Linked DNA regions of Homo sapiens. The protein of the gene in region 1 interacts with the protein of each later gene in a biochemical or structural test. Each region holds a gene or a part of one and is shown in the gene's direction. Other genes may lie near its edges. The genes, in order: ETV1 and NSMCE2.

Region 1 (3,822 bases):
TTCTTTTCACCACCATCTTCCTAATGCGGGGGCACATTGCCTGGGCTGTCACAGATGGTGCTCAGCAGTGTCCCCGGGCAGTATTGCACAGCAGTAACAGATAAGGCAGTCAGGAATTAGGTTTGAATGCTAGCCTCTCACCAGATTACATTCTTGAACAGATTATTTTCCTAGTAAATGGTGATATTCTTGCCTCATTAAAGTTGCTGTGATTATTAAATGAAATAATGTACTTGAGATACTTTACATTGTAACTGGCACAATGTAAAGTATATCTGAACTCCTGGGCTCCAGCAATCCTCCTGCCTCAGCCTCCTGAGTAGCTGGAACTACAGGTTTGCATCACTGCACCCAGCTAATCACATTCTCGGATATGTACCATTCTGATGTTCAAGTAAATTCTAGTATAGTCATTCAGAGGAAAACTATGCTGTCCTTTTTTAAATAGCAAAAACTATGATGTTGAATTATATATTTTAACATGTAGGAGAAAATATTTATATGGCTATATTTGTTCACTAACTTAAAACTTTGTGGGCATATGTGGTGTATATAATATAGAAAATTAGAAGATTAGAGAAAAATAAAAATAACTTACATCTGAACATGTTAAAAAAATTGAAAACTGGTAATTAATTTTAGTAATACGGAAGAAGTAAGAAACAATGGAACAGTGTATGTTTACCTTACAGACAATGCCTATGTGTACTTCTATTTCAAAATTAGGAAATGCCTAGAACAATATATACCAATATGTTAATGGTGATTATATTCTGGATGATATAATTATAGACCCTTTGTTTTAACTTAATTGATAATTTCTAATTTATCCTTCAGTATCCCCATATTACTTCTGAAATTTTAAGAGATAAAACATAATTTGAATATCCAGCCATTGAAAGCACAGCTCTAAAGCTATCTCCTTGTTTACTTTTGATTTATCTCCCTGGAAAAATTCCTGTTTTTTCTGTCTGTCTCAGTGTTGCATTTTGGCTATACTTAATGTACAGCATTTTGCACGTTAGTACTTCTGTTACTCATAATGGAAGACATCATTCCCCTTGGTTGGTTATCATCCCTTGTTCTAAACTCAGTAGCATTTAACATAGTCCAGCAAATGAAGTAGTAGCCCTAAAAATGTTTATTCAAAAGCAATACAGAAGGAAGCAGTGAGGAAAGGCAGAGTCCTTGAGAGATTGCATAAGCTTGATTGCATGTTACACATTTTAATTCATTTATTACATAATTTTTAAGTATAGCCAGTAGCAACCCGTCAAAGGAAGTCCAGTACTTAAAGCAAATGTATCTTCCTCCACAGCCCCAAACAAAACAAAGCACATTATAAAACACTCAGAGGTATGCAGGCCATTTATTTTATTTTATTTTTTCTCCAAATACTTTGAACAAAGAAAAAAATAAAGGAAAACTAGGATTTACTATCTCAGCTTTGTTCCTGATAGTGCTATTTTTATGTTTATGGTCATTTCATCATTTCACCTTTAAGATCTTAATTTTCTTTGTATGAAGGACTAAAGTAAATAAATGTATGCCAGACTCCTCTGTTTCTGGCACAGTGCTCTGTGCTGGAGACTTCCATCCCAACCTTGCAATGGGCTTTCTGAGGCGCCATTCCTGTCTCCATTTCACAGCAAAGGCCACTGAGAGGTAGTCTAAGAAACAGGTCCAAATTCATAAAAACTACTAAATGTTCATTCTTTCAAACCTAGGTACATTCAGATTATTTGAATTCTCTAAAGTGGTTCCTCTTACTTAAATTCAGGGCAAAAGAAACAAAAAATGTTCTAAATTTGAATTCAGAGCAGCAGCATTCATTGACAATTGTTACTTTTCCCTCAAAGATATAACAATACTTTATAACCCAGGAACACACTGTTGCCCCACATCAAAAATCAACTAGCAAATGCCTTGTTGATATACAGGAACATGGAGGTGTTGTGTCACCTTCAGCTTTCTAAAATCTCATACCTTTACACACACCCATACAAAGTGACTATCAAAGTTAATAGAAAGAACTGTATTCATCCACCCATCCCCCCACCCCGGGTTTTGAGAGCATCTCAGCATTGTCTATTAACAAGAGGCGTATTCATCTCACTCAGTTGTTTATAATTTTCTAGGGAAGCATTACTCTTCAGAATTTAAGTTTGGGGTATGTCATACCCTATAAATTATGCTACTTCTTTATTCCAGGCAGTTGTCACATTTCTTTTTCTCATTTCCTCCCTGTGCATTGTGTATTTTAAATTCCTTTCACTTTTTTACACCTCTTACTTCAATTTGACACTTTACACACATCCTTAACTCTGTCTAATGCATCTTGCCTTCATTTTTAAAAGTGATGTACCCAGGATACTGTCCTTTTGATCCATCTTTCATTTAAATGAGGCTGTGTATCCTTTCTTTCTTTCTTTCTTTCTTTCTTTCTTTCTTTCTTTCTTTCTTTCCTTTCTTTCTTTTTCTTTTTCTTTCTCTCTCCTTTCTTTCTTTCTCTCTCTCTTTTCTTTCTTTCTTTATTTCTTTCCTTTCTTTCTTCTTTCAACACACACTGCCAAAAAAGAAAAAAAGTAAAGAATCCATTTATTCTGTGAATCAGTGAATTACTAGTCTAGTCTTATTGGGAATAAAGCACATTTTTCTTTTAAATTTTGAATTTAGTTTTTCTACCATTTCAGATATGTAATATTAAGAGGGACAGTGTACCTTAAAAGTACAGATTTGTAGATACTACCTTTTAAAATGCAGAAAAAAAGCTTTCAATATGAAATGCCTGCATTAAATAATTGACTTTTTTTCAAAACAACGATGTAAGTTTACCTCTATATTAAGACAAGCAAATTCCTGTGCTTCCTAGCTATATCTGGAATTAATTAATTATTATTCAAGGTCAACATTTTGCATCTCCCTTGACTGAACTGTAGTTTATTCCACAAAGTAAAGACTTTTTTTTTTTTATGTGTATCTGCTATTAGTTGTTTGCTTTTTTGGGCCAGAGTTACCCATCCTTTCCTGTATATTAAACCACGTTTTTGGCTTTTTCCTTCCTGTCCTTCCCCATCTGGCGATGGTGAGGATGGGTTTTTCTCTTCCATGTTATCATCAGGTGGCTGGAGAGAGATATGTCTACAAGTTTGTGTGTGATCCAGAAGCCCTTTTCTCCATGGCCTTTCCAGATAATCAGCGTCCACTGCTGAAGACAGACATGGAACGTCACATCAACGAGGAGGACACAGTGCCTCTTTCTCACTTTGATGAGAGCATGGCCTACATGCCGGAAGGGGGCTGCTGCAACCCCCACCCCTACAACGAAGGCTACGTGTATTAACACAAGTGACAGTCAAGCAGGGCGTTTTTGCGCTTTTCCTTTTTTCTGCAAGATACAGAGAATTGCTGAATCTTTGTTTTATTTCTGTTGTTTGTATTTTATTTTTAAATAATAATACACAAAAAGGGGCTTTTCCTGTTGCATTATTCTATGGTCTGCCATGGACTGTGCACTTTATTTGAGGGTGGGTGGGAGTAATCTAAACATTTATTCTGTGTAACAGGAAGCTAATGGGTGAATGGGCAGAGGGATTTGGGGATTACTTTTTACTTAGGCTTGGGATGGGGTCCTACAAGTTTTGAGTATGATGAAACTATATCATGTCTGTTTGATTTCATAACAACATAAGATAATGTTTATTTTATCGGGGTATCTATGGTACAGTTAATTTCACGTTGTGTAAATATCCACTTGGAGACTATTTGCCTTGGGCATTTTCCCCTGTCATTTATGAGTCTCTGCAGGTGTACAAAAAAACC
Region 2 (3,822 bases), on another chromosome or scaffold:
GCCAGATAATGTAGAACAGTGGTCTTCAAAGTGTAATTCTTGGATCAGCAAAATCTACATTACCTGGAAATTTGTTAGAAATGCAGATTCTTAGGTCCCTTCCCAGACATACTGAATTAGAAATTCTGAGGGTGAGGTCCAGCAATCAGTGTTTTAATGGGCCCATCAGATGATTCAATACACTGACACTACATGTCTCCTAGATATATCAGAGTTAGAATTACATAGAGGACTTGTTAAAACGTAGATTGTTGGGGCCTGAGAATTTGCATTTCTAACAAGTTCATAGGTGATGCTGGTGACACTTGGTCAGGAACCATTTGGAGAACCACTATTGTCAGTTATTACGAAGCTCTTTGGCCATTACTCCCGGTGAGTCAGGAAGTCCTTAGGAGTTTTTGAGCAGAGGAGTCACATGATCTTACGTACATTTTCAAAGGTTTACTCTGGCTGCTGTGTTGAGAATAGGGTGGAAGAGGCAAGACTGAGAGCAGGGAGACCAGGTAGGAGACTGTTGGAGTAATTCAGGCAAGAGATGATGGTTTGAATCACGGTGTTATCAGCAGAATTGGTGAGAGTGGTTGGATTCTGGAGATAGTTTGACTACAGAGCTGGCAAAATTGATGTTGAGTTTGGTATAGGATATGAGGGGAGGAGGAGAAGGATCAAGTATGAACCAAGAGTTTTGGTTCAACAAATGGAAGGATGGAGTTGCTATTTAGTAAGATGGGGCAGGTTGTAAAAGGAGTAGGTTTGGGGGAGGGGTAGGGTGGGAGAGAAGGAATGTGGGCCTTCCATGTTGGACGTTTTAAGTTCTGGAGTGATCTTGCCAATGGTATTTAGATGGAATGGGTCTAGTTGGGAACACTAGGTGGATGGGAGAGGATGGAAAAGAGAGATCAGAGCACTGAGCCCTGGGCATACCACCTATACTACAGTTTTGGAGACATGTGCTGTTTTAGGTGCTGGAGATACATAGTATTACATTCATTCCTTCTTTCAGCAAGCCTTTGTTGAATGGCCACTAATGTGCCATGCGTTGTTTTAGGTGCTTGGAATACAGCAGTGAACAAAACAGAAAAAGTCAAAAAGTCTGTAAGTTTAAGGAACTTACAGTGTAATTGGGGACTAGACACTATAAACCTAATAAATACAAGAATGTCGTTTGGCAATACCTGCCTTGAGGAAAGATAAAGCAGAAGCAGAAGGGTGGGAATGCCTGGGGGTGGAGATTGGGAGGGCTTGCCGTTGTATATCAGATGGCCAGGGAAGGCCTTACTGATGAGGTGATACTCAAAGGGAGACCTTAGAGAAGTAAGGGAATTGACCTAGTAGATATCTAGGGGACCAGTATCATGGCAGAGGGAACCAAGAAGGCATAGCCCTGAGGCAGGGCTGTATTTGATTTGGGTATAGAAGGAGAAGAAAAAGAAGCTTGGATTCTGAACCTGGGACCCTACAACATATGGAGCTCAAGGAGATGGAGAGGAAACAGAAAGGAGAATGAGAACAAGAACAAGGTAGGCAGGTGCAGAAAGTGCATCAGGAAGGGAGTGATTAACTGTGTTGCATACTGCTGGCTGATAGGTCAAAGGAGATAGGGCTGAGCATTGATAACAAATTTAACATTAAGTCTTTTCAGGTGACCTTGACAAGAGCAGTTGCAGTGGAGTGATAGAGATGGAACCCTAGTGGGGGTGGGTTCCAAAGGGAATGGAAGGAGAGGATTTGGAGACAAATGTATACAAATCTACAGACGAGTTTTGCTCTAAGGCTGAGTAGAGAAATGGGGCTGGTAACCAGAGGGGTAAGTGGGAGGAAAGTCGGAGGATGTTTTTGAGATGGGAGAAGTAATGGTGTATTTGTTTGCTGAAGGGAATGATTCAGTAGAGAGGGAAAATTTAATGATGCAGGAAAGCAGGGAGAATTGCTGGGAGAATGTCTTAGAGTAGGGAGGGAGGGATAGGATCTAGTGGATAATTGGAGTGGAGGTGGCCTTATCTAGGAGCAACAGTTTATTCATTTTAACAGGAGGGAAAGCAGAGTGTATGAGAACTGATGCTGATAGGTGGAGAGGTAAGCGGTGGGAGCTTGCAAAATTTCTATTCTGACTGCTTCTGTTTCCTCAGGAAATTAGGAAACTAGATCTTTCAGTGAGAGTGAGGATAGAGGAGGAAGTGTTGGAAGTTTCTAGTGAGAGGAGTCGTAAAAGAGCATAATAGAATCAGGAAAAGTCAAGTATTGTCTTATGTACTCTGCAATGATTTGTGCACTTCATTCCTACCTGCCTTTTCCTTTGCCTGAATGCCCTTCTCCATTACCCTTCCATCTGTTAAACTTCGTCTTTTATCCTTTAAACTCAGTTCTATGTTCCCTTCTTTGATCCAGTCAGGCAAAGTTGAGCATTTTCTTATCTGTGCCTCAGCTTTGCAGTAACTCCCATGTTGCTTTAATTATCAGGTTTATGTTTTATCTCTGTCTCTCCTACTCAGTGGTGAGCCCCTGGGAGTAGAGGCTGAATTTTTTTTATTTTTATTTTTTTGAGACCGCGTCTTGCTCTGTTGCCCAGGCTGGAGTGCAGTGGCATGATCTTGGCTCACTGCAACCTCCGCCTCCCAGGTTCAAACAATTCTCCTGCCCAGCTTCCCGAGTAGCTGGGATTACAGGTGCCCACTACCATGCCCTGCTGATTTTTGTATTTTTAGTAGAGACAGGGTTTTGCCATGTTGGCCATGCTGGTCTTGAACTCCTGACCTCAGGTGACCCTCCTGCTTCAGCCTCCCAAAGTGCTGGGATTACAGGTGTGAGCCATTGCGCCTGGCCAAAGGCTGAATATTTCTAGTGCCTGGGATAGTGCCTGGCTCATGATAGGTTTTCATCAAATTAGAATAACAAAATAATTCTTTAAAAGGAGAGTGTCTTAAGAGTGCTCATCTTGAAAACTGTGGTATTCTCATGCTAAAGGAAGTGCCTGGCACTTAAAGAGATACTAAATATTTGAACTGACAATGAGTTGTACTGTGGATGTTTGAGGTAAACAAACACTTCAAATTAGAAATCTTATGCATCTCTGTGCATCTTGCATGTCTCTATGCCCTTCTCTTTTTATATCCTGTGGATTTTTGAATGGGTCTCATGATTGACATGGTAGGTACTCAATACTTATGAGTGAAATGAATGAATGAACCTAATTAAAAAGGACTAATAATGGAGAAACTACAATAGTAGTTCAGCTGTGAGATGAAGGTGGTAGCAATGATGAGGATGGAAATGCCAGAGATACTACACAGTTCCCCACTTAGGAAGGGCAGAAGGGAAGGCTCTAATGCTAATTAATTGTGTACTGTATGCTATACCATACCATGGTTATTCCTTTCCATTTTAAAGATGGTAAAGCTGAGATTCAGAGATGTTTAGCAGTCTTCATGTTATGTCTATCTGATTCCATGAAAATACCCCTTTTTCTGCTGCCATAGAGCCTTGTTAATAGCCCTCCCATCCCTTTAAAACTGTGAATTCTCCCCACTTTTCTAGTTGGTTTCAGTGGATTGAGTTTCAAATGGCTTCTGAATTAAGCAGAGATGTCCTTTTGTAGGCAGCTTTACATTGCTTTACTAAGCTGAAACAAATTGTGGTTGAAGATATAGATTAGGAAGTGTTAAATATGAAGGTAATAACTGAAACTGTTATAGTGGATGTGCTGCCAGAAGACAAGTTTATACAGAAATTCTGCTTTCACTGACTCTGGGATCTCACCAAGTCTATTAATCTGTTAGAAGCCAGAGGAACTGGCAGGAATATAGATTTTCTCTTTTTTTTACA

The links.
Region 2: of the proteins of ETV1 (region 1) and NSMCE2, one has a biochemical effect on the other in vitro, tested with the Homo sapiens proteins (one study listed by BioGRID).

The regions. Positions count from the first base shown.
Region 1 is NC_000007.14:13,895,387-13,899,208, reverse strand, and holds part of ETV1 (ETS translocation variant 1), read left to right. Parts: intron 1-3,121; coding exon 3,122-3,343; 3' UTR 3,344-3,822. UniProt on the Homo sapiens protein: Transcriptional activator that binds to DNA sequences containing the consensus pentanucleotide 5'-CGGA[AT]-3'. Required for olfactory dopaminergic neuron differentiation; may directly activate expression of tyrosine hydroxylase (TH).
Region 2 is NC_000008.11:125,098,038-125,101,859, forward strand, and holds part of NSMCE2 (E3 SUMO-protein ligase NSE2), read left to right. Parts: intron 1-1,416; exon of another isoform or gene 1,417-1,520; intron 1,521-3,822. UniProt on the Homo sapiens protein: E3 SUMO-protein ligase component of the SMC5-SMC6 complex, a complex involved in DNA double-strand break repair by homologous recombination. Is not be required for the stability of the complex.